3 linked regions of the Homo sapiens genome follow. The protein of the gene in region 3 interacts with the protein of the main gene of each other region in a pairwise test. Each region holds a gene or a part of one and is shown on either strand. Other genes may lie near its edges.

Evidence for each region. The genes of interacting proteins can lie anywhere in the genome.
Region 1: the proteins of ZMYM2 (region 3) and GTF2IRD1 interact in binary tests that used the Homo sapiens proteins (3 or more experiments, as listed by UniProt).
Region 2: the proteins of ZMYM2 (region 3) and PAICS interact in binary tests that used the Homo sapiens proteins (3 or more experiments, as listed by UniProt).

The regions. Positions count from the first base shown.
Region 1 is NC_000007.14:74,449,931-74,456,905, reverse strand, and holds the start of GTF2IRD1 (general transcription factor II-I repeat domain-containing protein 1), read right to left. Parts: upstream 3,001-6,975; 5' UTR 2,730-3,000; intron 2,528-2,729; exon of another isoform or gene 2,394-2,527; intron 2,385-2,393; exon of another isoform or gene 2,096-2,384; intron 1-2,095. UniProt on the Homo sapiens protein: May be a transcription regulator involved in cell-cycle progression and skeletal muscle differentiation. May repress GTF2I transcriptional functions, by preventing its nuclear residency, or by inhibiting its transcriptional activation.
Region 2 is NC_000004.12:56,460,221-56,465,078, reverse strand, and holds the end of PAICS (bifunctional phosphoribosylaminoimidazole carboxylase/phosphoribosylaminoimidazole succinocarboxamide synthetase), read right to left. Parts: 3' UTR 501-4,858; downstream 1-500. UniProt on the Homo sapiens protein: Bifunctional phosphoribosylaminoimidazole carboxylase and phosphoribosylaminoimidazole succinocarboxamide synthetase catalyzing two reactions of the de novo purine biosynthetic pathway.
Region 3 is NC_000013.11:19,953,843-19,961,726, reverse strand, and holds the start of ZMYM2 (zinc finger MYM-type protein 2), read right to left. Parts: upstream 3,001-7,884; 5' UTR 2,886-3,000; exon of another isoform or gene 2,768-2,885; intron 2,704-2,767; exon of another isoform or gene 2,592-2,703; intron 2,477-2,591; exon of another isoform or gene 2,135-2,476; intron 1,770-2,134; coding exon of another isoform or gene 1,701-1,769; intron 1-1,700. UniProt on the Homo sapiens protein: Involved in the negative regulation of transcription.

The sequences.
Region 1 (6,975 bases), on a different chromosome or scaffold from region 3:
CAAGCCAAGTCCTGAAGGAGAGGAAAAGAGGCAAATTCTATAATCCTGACCCCCTACCCTAGCCAGGCAGGGCTAATAAAGGAAGCCCCCCAGCCTCCTCAGGGGAAAGGCCAAGAAGAACCTTCGAGAGAAGAGGAACTGTGTGTGCAGAGGCCAGGGGTAGGAGGAAGCCAGGCCATTCAGGAAAACGGCAAGACTACAGAATTTTTTCTTTTTTTTTTTTTAGATGGAGTCTTGCTCTGTTGCCCAGGCTGGAGTACAGTGGTGCGGTCTTGGCTCACTGCAACCTCCACCTCCCGGGTTCAAGCGATTCTCCTGCCTCAGCCTCCCGAGCAGCTGGGATTACAGATGCCTGCCACCACGCCTGGCTAATTTTTTGTATTTTTAGTAGAGATGGGGTTTCACCATGTTGGCCAGGCTGGTCTTGAACTCCTGACCTCGTGATCCACCCACCTCGGCCTCCCAAAGTGCTGGGATTACAGGCGTGAGCCACTGCGCCCGGCCAGACTACAGGATTTATGAGTCGGCTGAGGAAGCAGTGAGTGGTCAGAGACTAGACCCTGAATGAGAATCATCTGGGAGCTGCAGTCTATGGTTCCAAGGTCATGCTTAGGACGTGAATGTCCCAAGCCATCACCCACCATCCACAAGACCCCAGGTCCAACAACCAAGCTGTCACCAAACCGTGGATGGCCTGGCCTCTGGAGTCAAGCAGGCTGCAAAAACAGCTACCTCCAAGACCCTAGATTACAGCTGCCACTCAGACTATTGCCAAACACCAAGTGCTGACGACTACCACCTCATCAGAAGGCTAGCCGGGCTCCTGGGAGGCTGCCTTCAATGAACAGATAAAAATTATTTGTGATTAGCATACTGCAAATAAATGACCCTTCTCCCAACATCGAGAGAACAGTCCTTTTAAGTAGGTTTAGCGTGCCCCCTACAAAGCTGTCTTCAAGACCCAGTTTTACAACCATCGGCCTTAAGTTCTCGAACATTTTAAGAGTGCAGGCTCTGAGTGGCTGCGGAGTTTCAACCCTTCCTTCCTAGTTTCCTCTGTGGGGTCCTGTGGGACCCTCTGAGTTAGAACTGCCAATTTCTAGGTCACCCTCAGAACAGGCTGTGGAAGAACGAGGTGTGGACTTGAGCCTCCCACACCCCAGAGGCAGGATGGGGGTTCCGATACCCTGTCACCTTGGGGCCAAGCCTGTCCCTTGGTCCGCAGATGCCTGCTCAGAAGAGGTCAGAGTCTATCTCACACCCTCCTGGGCCCCAAATAGGGCGGTTCATGACGGCCACCTAACTACCTTATACCTAGCCCCTCCCTGCCAGCAGCCACCAGCCTCCAGCCACCTCCTCCTGCTTAGAATAAATAATCGATGCTGGTGCCCTTCCCCTCTGGAATGACACTGCTGAAATAAATGAGCTGCTTGGGGCACCTTCCAAGTCCCAAGGCCCCGGGCCAGTGCCAAGGAGTCAACAGTCCTGGCCACGGGGCAGCCAGACACACAGAGGCCGACCATGGCAGCGGCGCGCCAGGGTGGCTTCTAGACACCCCTCTCCTCTTCTAAGAGAAACCCCAGCAAATGCCCACTTCTCCAAAAACTGCGGGGGCCTGCCCTCCACTCCCACCCGCCAGGCCCAGGGCCATCCCGGGGTACCCCTTGGCACATTCTCCATCCAAGAGTCAGTGCTCCCCTCACAGGCCCTGCAGCGAGACCCCTATGTCCCAGCACCCTCGCTTCAGCTGGGATGGGGACACAGGAGACTCCCACCGCAGGACCTTGGTCCTGGGAGGTAGGGTCACTAGGCCAGACGCCAGAGCTCCAGCCCCCTCCAGCACTGCCAGGAGGGTGGAACGAACTCTCAGCGGCACAGCGGCCCCCTTCCCTGGGCCCACGCCAGGCGAGGCAGGGTCTCACTCCCTGGCTGCTGGCCAGGGGTGAGGAGCCCAGGAGAGGTGTCAAGCCCATCATGCCCAGGGTACTTAGGATGGGGCGGGTGGGTGTTCAGCACCCTGTGGCCCCTCCTCTGTCCTCTCCACCCATCTGCAGGAACTCAGAGACCACCCACAGACCGAGTATCCCCAACTTACTCCTCTGAACCCTTTGTGGTCCCCCCACTGCCACCTTCTGAGTCCCCTCCACCCGGGATTCAGCGGCCACCACCACACAGGCCAGCCCCCTCCCCGGGGCCGGGGCGGGGGGTCCACTACAGGAACCACCCTGCTGGGGCAATCCTGGCTGGACTGGACTCCGCCTGGGAGTTGGGGGCGCGGGCCAGGGGCTGGCCCAGACCGGGAGAAGGTGGAGGGGGGAAAGGCGGGGACCGCGGCCTTCCCAGCCCCCTCTGCTCCCACCCCGGCGCCCGCCACCGCGGGCAGCGCGACTGACCTCATTCGCCAACTGCAGCAGCCTGCGGGCGCCGGCCCGGGACGCCCCCCACCTCCAGAAGAGCCGGTGGCAAGGAGGGAGGGGGTGACAGCTCCCAGCTCCCGGCCCCTCCCGGGCAGGTGGGGGGCGGCCGTCCCTCCCCTCCCCCCGGGCCCGAATTATAATCCCAGTCACGTGCCTCCCCGGGCACCCAAAAGCCGGCCCCAGCTCCTGTAACACCTTGAGAGGGGGAGGGGCGGGGACCCCCCCCCCCGGAGGCGGAGGGGATCGGGGGCGGGGGTGGGGGAGAAGGGGAGAAGGGCCTCGGTGCCCGCCCCCCGCAAAAGTTTCTCCTACCTTGGAGGATCCCCAAGCGCTCCTGCCAGCGGCGCCCCGGCCCCGGCCCGCGGCCAGGACTCAGCCTCCTGCCGCTGCCTCCTTAATTAATCCGGGAGAATGGGGGAAGGAGAGGCAGAGGGAGGCGAGGACGGCGGCGCGGCGAGGGCGGGGAGGGAGGCGCGGGGAGGGGGCGCGGGGGGGGAATCGGCCGGCCGGGGGGCTGGCGCTCGGCGGCCCCCACCCCCGGCGCGGGCTGCGGCGGAGGGCGGGGCGGCGCGGGGAGAGGAGCGGAGAGCGGGAGCGCGGGGAGGCTCTTTGTTCTGTAATCCCAGTAAGATTGCCAGCCATTCGCCCCGGCCCTAATCCCAGCCCCGCGCAACACCACCCTCCATTGGCTGCCATTTACATACGGGATTAGCCCGCCCCGCGCCCCGCGCCCCTGCGCACCCCCCTTGCTACCCAGCGCCCCTGCGTCCCGGGGACCTGGGCACCGCGGTGGGGAGAGCGCGCCGCACCCCTCGGCCCCGGACCTGCGGGGAGGGGCGGTGGCGCCCTCGGTTCTCCCCCACCAGCGCCGGATTAGAAAAGCCTGGGCGCGCCCCCGTCTACCCCCACCGCTCCCCACCACCACTGGGAGAGCAGCCGGGCGCAGGGGGCTGAAGTTGGAGGGTCAAGGTCACCCAGCTGGAACGCGCGGAGGCCCTGAGTGTCCCGGCTGGTCACTCCCGCCTGGCCCGGGTTCTAGTCCTAAGGCTTGGGCCAGGTACCTCTTACTCTTACAGCCTTTGTCCCCCTCCCACCCCTGAGATGTGCAGGAAGGCAGTGACAGGCCGAAAGTCGCAGCAGAGCCAACTGGACTCTTGGTCCCATCTTGTCTGATGGGACCTCCCTCTGATAGGCTTTTACCCCTGTCCCCCCAACCAGCCCCCCCGCCCCCCGCCCGCCCCGCTCCCACCAACCACACACACACCACAGCAGCGCTCCTACTGAATCAGTGCGCACGCCTCCCATCCGGCCCCAAAGCCATAAATCCTAATTCAGCACAAGGAACACAGTCCTTCCCCCACGTGGTGCCCTGATCCCTGAACTAGACCTTGGCTAGACTGGGCATGGCAGGGAGGGAGGGACTCACCCCAGGCAGGCCCCAACCCCAGGGAGCTTCTGGCTTAGAAGGACAGCCAAACATAGATCGAGAATCTCCCAGGTCCTGGCAAAACCCACAAGGTCTCCCCACAGCCTCCTGGCCAAACTGCCTTTGCAAAGATTAGGACAGTGACAGAAGTTTAGCGTGGCTGACTCCATCTTGCTTCCAGCCTCACGCGCTGGCTGTCTTCACTCATTCCGGGGCATAGGCCAAGCTAACCGGGGGAGGAATTTAGTTTATAGTTCAACTTTGAAACAAGGATGATAATAGTTACTCCTTAAACCTAACCTGCTTTTTATACAAGAGACCAAAACCACCTTTGTAAAACTAACGAAAGGCCGTGAGATTAGGATTATGGGAGGGGCCTGGACGCTGCTAAAACCTACGCATCGTTTTTATAATCTGACTGCTCAGGAGTCATGTGGCGAGAGATCACAAGATTTGTGAGTTCCCCACTTCCTCCTATAGATAGCATCTCTATTGTGGAAACTGAGATTGGTCTTTGGAGATGTTTTTCAGACTTTCGCATTCGGGCAACCGACTGACTCACCTGGACCTGTGTGACTCATGACTCAGCCCATCCTGTGGCCCCCACTCAGAGACCGACTCAGTGCATAAGGACCGTTTGCCACACCCCTGTGATTTCATCTCCAACCAATCAGCAGTACCCATTCCCTGGGCCCTTGCCCACCAAATTATCCATAAAAACCCTAGCCTCTGAGTTCTTGGGGAGATTTATTTGAGTAATAACTCCAGTCCTACTGCTTGGCTAGCTCTGCATTAATAAGACGCTTTTGGCTGGGCTCAGTGGCTCATGCCTGTAATCCCAGCACTTTGGGAGGCGAAGGTGGGTGGATTGCTTGAGGTCAGGAGTTCAAGACCAGCATGGCCAACACAGCGAAACCTGGTCACTAAAAATACAAAAATTAGCCGGGTGTGGTGGTGCATGCCTGTAATCCCAGCTACTCAGAAGGCTGACGCATGAGAATCACTGGAACCCAGGAGGTGGAGGCTGCAGTGAGCCAAGATTCAGCCACTGCACTCCAGCCTGGGTGACAGAGTGAGACTGTGTTTCAAAAATTAGGCCAGGCACGGTGGCTCATGCCTGTAATCCTAACACTTTGGGAGGCCGAGGCAGGTGGATCACTTGAGGTCAGGCATTCAAGATCAGCCTGGCCAACATGGTGAAACCCTGTCTCTACTAAAAACACAAAAATTAGCCGGGCGTGGTGGCAGGCACCTGTGATCCCAGCTGCTTAGGAGGCTGAGGCATAAGAATCGCTTGAACCTGGGAGGCGGAGGTTGCAGTGAGCCAAGATCGCACCACTGCACTCCAGCCTGGGCGACAGAGTAAGACTGTCTAAAAAATTTTAAAAATTAAGAAACATAAAACTATTTCTCGCTGTAATACCATGGTCTCAGTGAATTCTTCCTGTGCAGCGGCAGGAACACCCGTCAGACAATTACACTGGGGTCTCTTCTGGACACACACCAGGAACTTGGTGAGGGTTAACTTTGGCTGACCAGGTCTCCTATAGGAAACCCACAAACCCATCAGACTGAGAGCTCCTCCCAGGCAGGCCACATCTGCAGTGCCCAGCACAAGGCAGGGCGCAGAGGGGCCCTCATGCCCACAGAGGATGTTGGGCCATGTCAGGGTTGGGAATGAAGTCACCAATGCTCCCTCCATCCTTCACCACCCTCCTGTTGTAAGGAGGTCTGGGACATCTCAAGGCACCCTCCTGTGTGGCCCTCTGAGACCCAGGTCGTCTCCCACCCTGCCTCTTTCTCTTTTTCTTTTCTTTTTTTTTTTTTGAGACGGAGCCTTGCCCTGTCACCCAAGCTGGAGTGCAATGGCATGATCTCGGCTCACTGCAACCTCCGCCTCCCAGTTTCAAGCGATTCTCCTGCCTCAGCCTGCCGAGTAGCTGGGATCACAGGCACGCGCCACCACGCTGGGCTAATTTATTTTTTAATCTTTAGTATAGACAGGGTTTCACCATGTTGGCCAGGCTGGTCTCAAACTCCTGACCTCGTGATCCGCCCGCCTCGGCCTCCCAAAGTGCTGGGATTACAGGTGTGAGCCACCGCACCTGGCCCCTGCCTCTTTGTCTAATCACCTGCATGACCTTGAGCAAGTCAGTTTTCCTCTGTGAGTCTCCACTTCCCTCCTCCTGCAGCTTCTCATTGGACCACAGTGTGGCCCCCATGGTAGATAACACTGGTGATTGGCCCCTGCTTGTCAAGCATCTCCTAGGTGCTGGGTTGGTTGCATTTAAGTTCTCTAAGCCTTGCGCTAAGCCTGCCAGGTGGGTACTATTGGCCTCATGTTACAGTGGGGTAAAGTCACGTACTTAAAGACATGCAGCCCTGGCCGGGCGCAGTGGCTCATGCCTGTAATCCCAGCACTTTGGGAGGCCGAGGTGGGTGGATCACCTGAGGTCAGGAGTTCGAGACCAGCCTGGCCAACATGGCAAAACCCCGTCTCTACTAAAAATACAAAAAAATTAGCTGGGTGTGGTGGTGCACACCTGTAGTCCCAGCTACTTAGGAGGCTGAGGCAGGAGGATTGCTTGAGCCCAGGAGTTGGAGGCTGCAATGAACTATGATTGTGCCACTGCACTCCAGTCTGGGTGACAGAGTGAGACTCTGTCTCCCCACCCCATCAAAAAAAAAAAACAAAACAAAAAAACAAAAACATGTGGCCCTGTGAGTGGAGCTGCTGGGTCTGGGCGAAAGGATAGAGCTGCCGCGCACTGACTCGTGGTACCCCCATGATGTCTGCACCGGCCCGTGCAGTGTCAGGGCTAGGGCATGCCCTCCGTGGGCCCAGTTGGTTTGAAGGCCGAATGTTTCCCTGACCCCAAGTCCTACACCCCAGGGCTTGGAGGAACTGAGGCTTGGTAGGGAAGCATCAGTGTATGCTCAATACTGCCCTCTGCAGGTAGAATCTGGAACAGGGGTGATTCAAGGGGCGTGCTCCCTGCAGCCTCTGGGAGACCTCTCTGCTCCCTGAGAGCCAAACAGCCAGCATGACCCCAGCCTCACCCAGGCAGAGAGCAGGTGGCAGTGTGGTACAACACTGGCACGTCCAGCCCCCGCTCGGCCACATCTGGGAAT
Region 2 (4,858 bases), on a different chromosome or scaffold from region 3:
AGCCTATAAATATGGGGCTTAACCTGCCATTTTTGAAACAGGAATCTTCCAAACCATAGTGGTGTTTTGTTTTTTTTTTTTTAAATAACAAATTTACATCTCACATTGTGAAGGATGGAAAGATTGTCTGGTGAGGGGCCACTCTGATTCATAGATGGCATCTTCTGTTTTCACATGGTGGGAAAAAAACCAGACTGATCTCTTAAAGCATGTATCTGATGCCACTTTCCTACCCTCACGATAAAATCCGAACTCCAAAGAAGAGCAGTAAGAGCTTTTGTGATCTGGCCTCTGCTTGCCACCTCCCCAACTCACATAGGTCTCTATACTTATTTCCTAGCCCCCTTGCATGCTATTCACCTCTAACTTCCATGTAGTTATGTGTCCCCCTACCTCCTGGAATTTGCATTTTTATTCATCTGACAAGTGTTTGTCTTGTATATGCCAGTGCCGTGTATTACACCAGTTGCTGTGATACAGCTGACAACAAAGAAGACAGCCCAGTGTAATACATTTATTTTCTAGTTGGGAGAGATGGGTAATAAATAAACATGTACTATGTTTGGTGGTAATAAGTTTGCTGAAGAAAATTATGGAAAGGTAAGAGAGATTGAGTATAGACTGTGGAGAATTAGTCTTTTTCATTCACAGTATACAATTGTTTTCTAGAGATCAGAGTCCTTCCTACTTTTGTGTATTCACAATACCCTATTGTTAATTCCATATTAAGACTATATACGGTGTTTTGAAATTGTCTGCCTCTGGAGACTTCCAAGATTCATTGAGAGCAGAAGGTTAATTTTGTTCATCTTTGCATTCCCAGGGTCTTATATATACATAATAGGCTGTATTTGTTCTCTAAAAAATACAGAACCAATAGGATATGTACAGATTATGAGAAATTGGCTCTGCAAAATGGAGGTGAAGTCCCACAGTCTGCCTTCTGCAGGCTGAAGGCCCAGGAAAGCCAGTGTAGTTCCAAACCCGAGGGCTTGAGAATCAGGGGAGGCAATAACGTTAAGTCCTAGTCTGAAGGCCTGAGGACCAGGAGCACCAACATCTGGGGGCACGAAATGGATGTCCCAGCAGTTCACCCTTCTTCCCCTTTTTTGTTCTATTCAGGCCCTCAATGGATTAGATGACGCTCACCCACATGGGTGAAGGCAGTCTTCTTTACTCAAGTCTACTGATTCAAGTGCTAGTCTCTTCCAGAAACACCATCACAGATGTACCTAGAAATGTTGTTTGACCAGCTATCAAGGCATCCCGTAGCCTAGTCAAGTTGACAGAATTAGCCATCTCATCAGTATCCACAATGTATTTTTATATTAATGGATTTAGCCTGAGAAGCTTCCATGTACAGTATCTTTTTTTTTTTTTTTTTGGCGACAGATTTTCGCTCTTGTTGCCCAGGCTGGAGTGCAATGGTTCGATCTCAGCTCACCACAACCTCTGCCTTCCAGGTTCAAGCGATTCTCCTGCCTCAGCCTCCCGAGTAGTTGGAATTATAGGCATGCACCACCATGCCTGGCTAATTTTGTATTTTTAGTAAAGAGGGGGTTTCTCCATGTCAGTCAGGCTGGTCTTGAACTCCCGACCTCAGGTGATCTGCCCACCTCACCCTCCCAAAGTGCTGGGATTACAGGCGTGAGCCACTGCACCCAGCCTCATGTACAGTATCTTATGGTATCTTGTCAACTCAGAGGCAAGCAGAAGAAATAAGACGTGAGCCACCGCGCCCAGCCTCATGTACAGTATCTTATGGTATCTTATCAACTCAGAGGCAAGCAGAAGAAATATTTAGCTCCATTTTATAACTTGATTTCCATTCCACTATTTTCATTGTACTGCAATGTGAGATTAACAATTCCACCCCAAGTATTTGAGGTGTGGGAAGCTGGATGTAAAAACACCATTAAAAACAACTCTTTTCAATGGCTTTCTAAGGTTGGCTGGGCTGAAATGGCAGGTTGTGGATGCTCCGTGGCACATCACACTGCCCCTTTCTTCATATTAGAAATTAAATCAGCCGATGGCAATATTGAATTCCAGGTAATTTTCTTTCTTTCTTTTTTTTTGAAACAGAGTTTTGCTCTTGTTGCCCAGGCTGGAGTACAATGGCGCAACCTCGGCTCACCACAACCTCCGCTTCCCAGGTTCAAGCGATTCTCCTGCCTCAGCCTCCTGAGTCGCTGGGATTACAGGAATGTGCCACCATGCCCGGCTAGTTTTGTATTTTTATTAGAGACTGGGTTTCTCCATGTTGGTCAGGCTGGTCTCGAACTCCTGATCTCAGGTGATCCACCTGCCTCGGCCACCCAAAGTGCTGGGATTACAGGCATGAGCTACCATGCCCAGAGAATTCCAGGTAATTCTCATGGTGAATGAATTCCATTCATACTGTTGTTCTTCAGTCTGCCAAATGGATATTACATAACACATTTGTGTGCCATGATGGGCCTTACATATATTGACTCATGTAATTCTCACAACTTTATGAGGTGGTATTAGTCGCATTTTCATTTCATGAAATTGAGGCACAAAAAAATTAGACATGTTGAAGATCATACATCATCCCTCACCTGGGCTACAATAGCCTCTTAACTAATCTCTGCTTCTCCTCTTGTCCACACAACAGCCAGAGAACCTTTAAATATGTTAAGTATGTCAAGCCTCTGCTCAAACTGAGTTTTTCCTGTCACACTTCAGTGTGGCCTATAGGCCCTAAGTGATGTAGCCTTTGCTTATATTGTCTTCCACTCTCATCCTTGTTCACAGAGCTCTAGCAATTCTCATGTTTGGAGGTCCTCAAGGCAAAACTCAGCTTTATTTCCCATTCCCTTAGTATGGAAAGCTATTTCCCTATCTGTGTGTCTTGCTTTTACATCATTGCTCTGCTCTCCTCAAAAACCTTCCCCTCTTATCCCCATCACCGTCCTCATTTTGATTCTTCATATACATTTATCCTTTCCTGATTTTATACTGTTTACCTTTTTATGGTTTGTTTTCCCCTCTAAAACATAAGTTCCATCTGGACAAGGGCTTTGCTCAGTCCTATTTTCCTAGGCCCTAGAATCAAACCAGTATTGGGTGAATGGATACTGAATGAAGCTTTACCTAAGTGCTTTGTCTTTTACTTAGTTTCAGTGGTTAAATCTCAGAAAGCTTAACAGCAATTCTAAGCATGTCTTTATCATAAAAGGTTAAAAACTGTATTATTGGGATATTTTTTCTCTTTTTATGTTTACCTACAAGCCCGTAGAAAGTATAAATACTCAAAAGATAGCAGACCAGGTAGGCTTAAGTTACTTTTACAAAACAGTAGAAATACCTTCAAATATTTAGCACTGATGAACTTACTACTGAGGACATGTGGACTCTACTAAGAAACTAATGATGAAATTCATAATTGGGTGTGGTAGCACATGCACCCAGCTACTCGAGAGGCTGCAGCTTGAGTCCAGGAGTTCAAGGCTGCAGGGAGCCATAATCATGCCACTGCACTCCAGCCTGGGAGACAGTGAGAACTTGGCTCTTAAAAAAAAAAAGGAAAAAAAATTGATAACGACAATTTGTAATGGTCAGTCCTATCCACCAGTCTAAATGAAAGTTTAAAAATTTTCATATACTGCACAGAAGTAGATGGAGTCTTAATGCTAGGTAAGGGTAAACAAGCTGAAATAGCAGTCAGTGACTTCAGAGACCATGAAACCAAAGTTAATCTTCTAAGTCCTTTTAATTGTTCTTATAAACTAGCATAAGATATAAACTTAAGTAGTACACATGAGTTTTATAATTTACTAATCTCTGACAGATAGCTAAGCATAGCACATCAGAGCATAACACAGTGTGAGGGAAATAAAGTGTACAATGACATCTTCTATTCTGGACCTAATAATTCAATAGAGAAAGAACTACTTGTAGTCACTGTGGTTACAGAAGGTTTCATGGACAGCGAACATAAAGCTCTACTAGCTAACAAATAGGTCTTAATGATAAAAACGTGGGCCTTCAGAGAACTAAAGGTACCAATGTGTGGCAGTCCAAAATTACGAGGAAAATGAGTTCCCTTCATGGGTCACATCAGCAATTTTTTTTTTCCCCTTTTGAGACAGAGTCTTGCTCTGCTGCCCAGGTTGGAGTGCAGTGGCATGATCTAGGCTCACTGCAACCTCCGCCTCCCGGGTTCAAGCAATTCTCATGCCTCAGCCTCCCGAGTAGCTGGGATTACAGGTGCCTGTCATCACGGCTGGCTACTTTTTGTATTTTTAGTAGAGACAGGGTTTCACCATGTTGGCCAGGCTGGTCTCAAACTCCTGACCTCAAGTGATCTGCTTGCTTCAGCCTCCCGAAGTGCTGTGATCGTAGGTGTGAGCCACTGTGCCCAGCTACCTCATCAATTCTTAATCTATAAACCATGGATAGGCTTCGGGAGAACCCAAGAACCAATGAAATCTGTTGGTAAGTTTTATGTGTGCGGTTTTCTACAGAGAGGGTCAACAGCATGTATATTTTCAAAGAAGTCTGTGGTGCAAAAGAGAGTTTATTGTTAGAAGTCCTTGGGCAATCAACTTGGAAAAGGGTGGATTGAGAATGGGGGCTGTCTAGATCAGGATAATGTTGAATTTGACCCTCACTTGAGGCTTTTGTACAGAGGATGAGAAGACGGTAAATTCAAGGGTTAATCAGAAATTAACACCAACATGACTTGGTGATGAGTGAGATGTGAAACGTGAGAAAAACATCAATGATGAAATCAAGCTTCTGACTTGCAACAGTGAGTATACCAAGAGCTACAGGCTTGGAAGATGAATAAAGTTGGGAGCATTCTGTTTTTTCATGAGTGCCCATGGGACAG
Region 3 (7,884 bases):
ACGTAAAAGCAGCACTGCTTTCCGTTAGTATACATATGTTGACATTACAGAAAAGTACTGATTTTGCATTTTTTATGTTCCTCATCTCCAAATATCTACTAAACACAACCAATTATCAAGCTTCCCCTATCAACATAACTAAGAACAAAGAAAAAAAATCCTAGAAAGATAAATCTTTTGTGAAAATATGTGGCGATAAGCATCATCCATCTATTTGAAAGATCTAACCCTTGATTCATTATTGAATGATCTGATGCCTGAGATGAACTTCAAACTCATTAGAGATGTTATATTCATTCAAGTTAGCAATATTTAGAAAACAATTACAGACTGTAAATTGTACAGACATATTGAAAAAGAGACTATGTTAATTCTGATCCAAACAGCCCGTTAGTTTTGAAACAAGGCAGTATAAAAATCTAATTGATAACTGTGGTTATCAACATCACTGGGTTTTCGTGATAATTAAATTACTTAACACATGTTAAAAACTAGTGTGGGCACGTATTGATAATTTTAGAATGTGAATGATGGGTACATGGAGGTTCAGTACACTATTCTTACTAGTAAAATTTAAAGTTTCCATAATAAACTTAAAAAAAAAAAAAAAACCTTAGAATTGGGCTAGCATACAATAAGGGCTCAATACACGCCATAGGTATTACCCTGTGGGCTACTTGCTAAGATTAAAGGAAAGTGTCCTGGACTGTGCCTAGAACGGTGTATATTTAATGTAAGTTACTATTCTCACATCATCCTTCACAATGTATATTCAGCAAATGCTTATCAATTCACTATTTTTTGAACCATGTGGACTGAATACTTAAGCGTAAATAACTCATCTCTGACTCTGACAGAGATCTACAAGTTACCACATCAACTGTCAATGGGCTCCAGAGACATAATGTGTCCAGAGTGCTGACTTCAGATACTTTTAGTTTCAATTGCCTGAAGGAAAATATGACTGGCTATCTTCATCTTCCTCTCTAGCACATTACATAGTTGCCTTAAAACCAACAAATTAAATAATTCTCTGGTAACACATTCAAAAATGATCGTTAAGTTAAAGATGATCAACATGGAAGATGGGGAACGAAGAAATTAACTAGATCAGTACACTGGACTGATCAGCATACTACTTGGTGAACAAGATAGTACTAGAGGAGTTGACTCCCTTTCCTAAGCAAATACATGAAAAAGATCTAGCAACTCATGAGCCATAAGTGTCAAAATATGTGTTTCCAGCAGACATAAACAAAAATATAAATGATTATTTCTATGTTTCCAATTCCTTCAATCAATTAGCCATTGTTTAAGGAAGAAAAAATGTTCAGGTTGCATGCACAGCATTCAACAAGAAATAACTTTAATTCCCATTTTGGAACTCTAGAGGGCACCAGAAATATGCCCTCCTTCGCACCACCCCTCCTCCCGGGTAACGTGAGCAGCTGCAGAAGCCCGTCGTCTGGTTGCTGAGGTTGGTATTGCAGCAGCAGGAGCGATGTCTGCAGCGGTGGAAACAGCAGCGCCCACTCCCAGCTGCCTCACCAGCCATTACCCAGGCTTCGCCCTGGGGGCAGCTGCCACCCAAGGGAAAGCTCCTCCCCCTCAAAACAACGGGGAGGGCCAGGTCCCATAGCTTAACCCCTACAACCTGACAATGTCCTCTATTAGCAACAAATTAGGGGCAAAGGACTCACAATGGGGGTGTTTTCCTCCTCACTTTCTGCCAAGGATGCACCAGACAGGGCTGAAGGCGATTCTTGGTCCTGGGATAGGAGGAAAAAAGAAAAATGTATCAAAAACACACAACCTGGTGGGAGAACCCAACCCTTTCTGCCAGAAGGAGGCAGAGAAGGGAATAAGAGGTCAAGGAGGTTCGGTCCTTCTATTATTACCCCCACCATGCGCACAACAGCCCCCTCCTGCGTAAGTGGGGCAAAACAGCGCAAAATACATATTTGGGGCCAAAACCCATGTGAAAGGCAAAATCTGGAAGGGAGGGGGCCTAAGGACACCGAGCCTGCTCCCGGGAAGGGAGGGGGGAAGGGAAAACGTTGCCTCGACGCCAGCAAGGGATTTGTATTCCCTCCTAAATTTGCCCACCCAGCGTCATCCCCGTCACTCCAAGTACCAATTCAGAGGTAAGGGGCGGCTCACGTCACTGCTGGGCCGATATCGCCCACATTTGCCCCAAGCAGTTGCCCTGGGCCTGAGGTTTGCCCCCCCCTGCAGTCGGCGACCGGCAGCGCTGCCTCCCCGTCCGCCATTAGAGACCCAGCCAAACAATACGTGCGGAGCAAGAGCCGCGCAGCGCAGCGCCGAGGAAAAGAAGAGCGAAGGAGGGGACCCGGCGGAGCAGAGGCAGCAGCCCTCACCCCGAAAAACTTGGGGACCTCGGCTCCGGTGGACAGGGTGGGAGCGCTGCCCCGAGAGCGGAGACCCAGCCGGGGCGCCCCTCCCCCGCCCCCCGCCGGAGAGAAAGGAAAATGCCCCGCGACCTCCCCGGGCGGCCGGCACCCCCGCCCCGCCGTCCCGCCGTCCCGCCGCCCCGCCGGCCCCGCGACCCCCGCCGCTGGCGGCCGCCTCACCCAGCCCTCCCGGCCTCGCCCGCACTCTCCCAGCCCCTCGGGCCGCACGCAAAGGCGCCTGTGACATGAGCGCAGCCCCGAGCTGCCCCCGAGGCCCCGACGCGGCAGCGGCGACGGCGGCCGCGCCGCGGGGTATTAATCCCGGGTCGGTGGGAGGCTCCGGAGGCTGCCCTCACCCATCTCCGCCTCCCTAGTCGCCTCCGCCTCCGCCTCCTCCTCCGGAGGCTGCGCTGCTCCCAGCCACCCCCACTCTCGGCGGCCCTGGACTGGAAAGACAGCGGGGATAAGCCTCACCCGGTTCTGGCTGGGGCTCCGCGGAACGAACCTCCCCTCCCCCGGCCCACCCCCCTTCGGCGACACGCACAACTCCGCTCGGTCCAGTCCCGGCTTTAGCGCTGGTGAGGAGGAGGAGGCGGAGGAGGCGGCGGCGCGGCCGAGCCCGGGGAGGCCCCGCCCTCCGCGCGCTCATTGGCTGACGGGGAAGGCTGGCCGGAGCGCTTCGGGCACGCCCATTGGCTCCGACGGCCGTCCTTCAGGGCCCCCCCTCGGTAGGGTGGTCCGAAGGGCTGTCCGTCAGGTGCGGGCCACTCCCCCGGCCCTGCCGTTCCACTCCCGCCTCCGCCGGCCCTCGACTCCTGGCCGGGTCCCCTCCCCGCCGGTCCCCCGCCCCCACCCACCGGGTCTGCCAGGGTCAGGAGCCCGAGATTCGCTGCCCGCCGTACCGAACCCGCTTCGGCTCCTCGGGGCCCGGGGCTCTCCGGGACCTACACAGCCCGGGAGACTCCGGCGGGGCCGCCTGCCCTCGCCCGAGCCCGGGCGCCCAGGCCGCGGCAGCGGCTCCCAACGCCTCTGCCCGAGGAGAGCCGCGGCCTCGATGCCCCAACGCCCTCCCTGTCCAGTTGCTTGAAGGCCCCTGCGAGGGGCGAGGCCGGGGAGGCGCTGGAGCGGGTCCGAGTGGGCTTTCGGGACCGCGGGTGAACTGGAATCCCGACCGCGCTGGGGGCAGTGGAGGCCCTTCCACCCTCGCCGCGCCCCGTGGGGAATAGTCCCCCACCTCCCGCCATGGCTGCAGCAGGAGGAGACGACGTCCTCCATTTTGTCGGAACGACTGTGGGAACTTGGGACCCCCTAAAAACCAAACCCCGTGGGGCCGGGAAACTTGTCCTCGGGAAGCCCCAACTGGACTCTGCCATTCGGCCAAGGGAACAACCCCGGCTGCTGGCGTCTGCGTCCGCGGGGCCACAGGGGACGGGCACGACGGTGGAGAGACCCAGACGCAGCTCCCCGCCTCCATCAACCAAGATGGAGGGAGCTGCGGGCTCCCCTGGAGCTGGGCTCCCACCGGTTGGAGGGGCTGAGGCCTGCCCTGGGGCGTCCTTGGGCGCCGCCGTCCTGTGCTCCGCAGCCCGGGGCGCTGGCCCTGCCCAGGCCTCTCTACCGCCTGCCACCGTCTCCTGGTCCTCAATGGTTGATGGAGACTCCATGGAGGCTCCCTCCACAGCCCGCTGCATCGCGGGGCGCACTCGCTGCGGCCGCCGGGGGGAGCGGAGTCAGGGACAGACGACGACAGGCGCCCGAGGAGGGCGGGCCCCACAGGCCACCTCCACGAGGGGTCTTCTCTTTTGTTCCTCGTCTACACCTACGTCTTCGGCGGACGTCATGGTGCTGAACCATTTCCAAGACTCACGTAAAGATGGAAGCGATGTCGCTTTCGTCTCGCCCTGGCGGTTCTTAGTGGGATTACAACTGAGGATGTTGGTTATTTTCCCACCCAAATGGATGGGCGACTTCTCAATTTCACGATTATCTGACACCATTGCCTATTAATAAACATATATGATAATACAGTTTCAAGTTCAACACAATATTGATGAACATGAAGTTTTTAGTGAGGTTAATCACCCGTGAAAGACTGATGTGTAAACTAATAGACGCAACTTACAGAGGATAATCTAGTAGAAGTTGAATTCATTCACTCATTAAAAAAAATAAATCAAGTAGGCTTTCCACCTTGTACTAAATACCTTGAATACACTGTTCTCTTTTATTGAAAAAAATTAATAAAATGTACTTGAACCAGCTTTTCAAAAAGTATCACTAATTTTTAGGAAACTTTGTAACTAAAATTTTTTAGTTTTAAATACACTAAAATAGCCTCTTAAGATTTCATATTACACAGTACTGGTTTAGACTGAAAAACTATCATCACAACAGAAACATCACAACAAAAACAGCCACTATCATCAAAACAAACATCCTCTACTACCAAATTGTAATAATTTGGTGAAAACTTACATCATTCCTTTTCTGCTGCCAGGTCCTATTGAAGTAGCTTCAGCTCATTGAATTTACATTTAGAAGACTAAAGTAGACTAATACTTCCAAATAAGCTCTGTGATAAATGATAGATTGGGTTGCCACGTACTGTTCAGTTGGAGCTCTATACTGCTACTAATTCCCTAGTGTTATTGCTGTTTTATATAACTAATGAGCAACTGTGCTAATTATAGTATTTATTATTTACTTTTTAAATTCATTCAGGTACATCTGTCCATGCAACTGTTCATTGGTTTGCTGGTCTGATATCAGGGAGAATTTTTCGTTGAGAATTTAGAACTGGGAAGAAAGTATTTGTCATAATGTTAAAAAGCAGACAATTTTACATAAAAGTAATTTTAAAAATAAATGTTTGAATGTTCATAACAGCATTATTCATAATTTCCAACATCCCTGAAATGTCCATCAACTGATGAATGGATAAACAAAATGTGGTACATCCATACAATGGAATATTATTCAGACCTAAAGAGGAGTGAAGTTCTGATATACACTACAACATGGACAAACCTTAAAGACATTATGCTAAGTGAATAAACAAGACACAAAAGACCACTGAATATTTTATTCCATTTACGAGAAATGTCTATAATAGGCAAATCTGTAGAGACAGAAAGTAGATTACTGGTTGCCCAGAACTGGAGAAGTGGGGAGTAGAAAATGGTAGCTAAAAGTTACGAGGTTTTTTAATGGAGTGACTCAAGTGTTCTAAAATTGACTGAAATGATTGCACAACTGTGAATGTGCTAAAAACCTCTGAACAGCATACCTTAAATGTGTGAATTGCATGATATGTCAATTATATCTCAATAAATCCACAACTAAAACTGTGTGTGTGTGTATTAATCTATTCTGTACCTGTCAAAAAGCATACCAGACATCCAAGAGGCAGCTGCAAGACGTGAGCAAAAGACTTGTATTTCAAATATCTGGCCACTCAAAACCTCAGAAACTTACCTTCTCTCTGAGTCCATTTCCTTATTTGTAAAGTAAAGTAATAAACAGTTGTTGTGGCTGGGCATGGTGGCACCCGCCTGTAGTACCAGCTACTCAGGAGGCTGAGGCAGGAGAATCGCTTGAACCCAGGAGGCGGAGGTTGCAGTGAGCCGAGAGCGCACCACTGCACTCCAGCCTGGGCAACAGAGCAAGACTCCATCTCAAAAAAAAAGAGTTGTTATAAGGACCAAGTAACTTCTGTGAAAGTGATATAAAAGTGTTAGGTTTAATTGCATTTCGAAGACCAAGAGCTCACCGTTAATTGAGATGTAGTAAAACTGACTCTGAGCACAGCTTAAAGAGCCAGACTGCCCCCATCTGAATTCTGGCATTACCCACAACTAGCAACTAGCTAGATGCTTTTAGTCATGTGTAAGCTTCTCTAAGCCTCTGATCGTTTCATCATGTGTGAAATGTAGATAATAATTCCTCTTTCATAGAGTTTTTTAGGGGGTGAAACGAGCATACATGTATAAAACTTGCACCTTGCACCTCACTTAATATAGACCTCAGTAAATTTTAGTTGTTTTTATCATTCATACTTGACTCAATGAAATATTAGAAAAAAATTATAATATTCTACTAGGACCATATTGATATCTCTACCACCAATACTATGCTACCGCATAATCCAAATAATAATAATAATAATAATAATAATAATTGCAGTAACTAAATCAAGTAGTCTTGGGGCCGGGCGCAGTGGCTCATGTCTGTAATCCCAGCACTTTGGGAGGCCAAGGCAGGTGGATCACTTGAGATCGGGAGTTTGAGACCATCCTGGCCAACATGGTAAAACCCCATCTCTACCAAAAAATACAAAAACTAGCCGGGCAGCGTGGTGCATGCTTGTAGTCCCAGCTACTCAGGAGGCTAAGGTGGGAGAGTTGCTTGAACCCGGCAGGCAGAGGTTGTATTGAGCTAAGATTGTGTCACTGCACTCCAGCCTGGGCAAAGAGTGAGACCCTGTCTCAAAAAGAAAAAAAAAACAACAATATTTTAACAATGGAAACACTGAAGAAAATTTTCTATGAAAGAAGGAACAAAGACTGAAACAAGTTTAATATTACTTATTGATATATAAACATAGTACTCCTGGGTAGGATGCTTCTCATAGGATTCAAAAATAAGAATTTTAAATAAAAATTGTTAGTTTTAAGTTGACATTTATAATTTGCTTATACTGAATGATGTTTGGTATTATAGCAACCAAAAATCCATAATTTTGCTTTATTGTTGTGGAGAAAGGGTGAAGTTCCTTGGCCCTAGGATTCTTGGCTCCAGAATCCATGCTATTAACCACCTCATTATACAGCCTCTCTAGATAGCTTTCTCTTCATTCTTAAATTTTAACTCTTAAACATGTCATCTTAAAAAATTTTAAACAGGCCAGGCGCGGTGGCTCATGCCTGTAATCCCAGCACTTTGGGAGGCCGAGGCGGGCGGATCACAAGGTCAGGAGATCGAGACCACGGTGAAACCCCGTCTCTACTAAAAATACAAAAAATTAGCCAGGCATGGTGGTGGGCGCCTGTAGTCCCAGCTACTTGGGAGGCTGAGGCAGGAGGATGACGTGAACCCGGAAGGCGGAGCTTGCAGTGAGCCGAGATTGTGCCACCGCACTCCAGCCTGGGCGACAGAGTGAGACTCCGTCTAAAAAAAAAAAAAAAAAAAAATTAAACATAGCACTAAATAATGCATTTTAGATCAGTGGCTTATAAACTTTTTTTTGACCATGACAACCACTGGGATATGCATTGTACATCAGCACCCGGTACAAACGCCTACTAGGTACATGACTATATAACTGAAACACAGGATTCATGGAATAATTATCTTTCACTGTCTTAGATGCATTTTAATATTATCCATTCTAGTATATTTAAATCTAGTCTATACAGTTTTAGCCCTTCTTTTTAAATAAATAAATAATAGTTGCAACACACCAAGTTCATTTCAT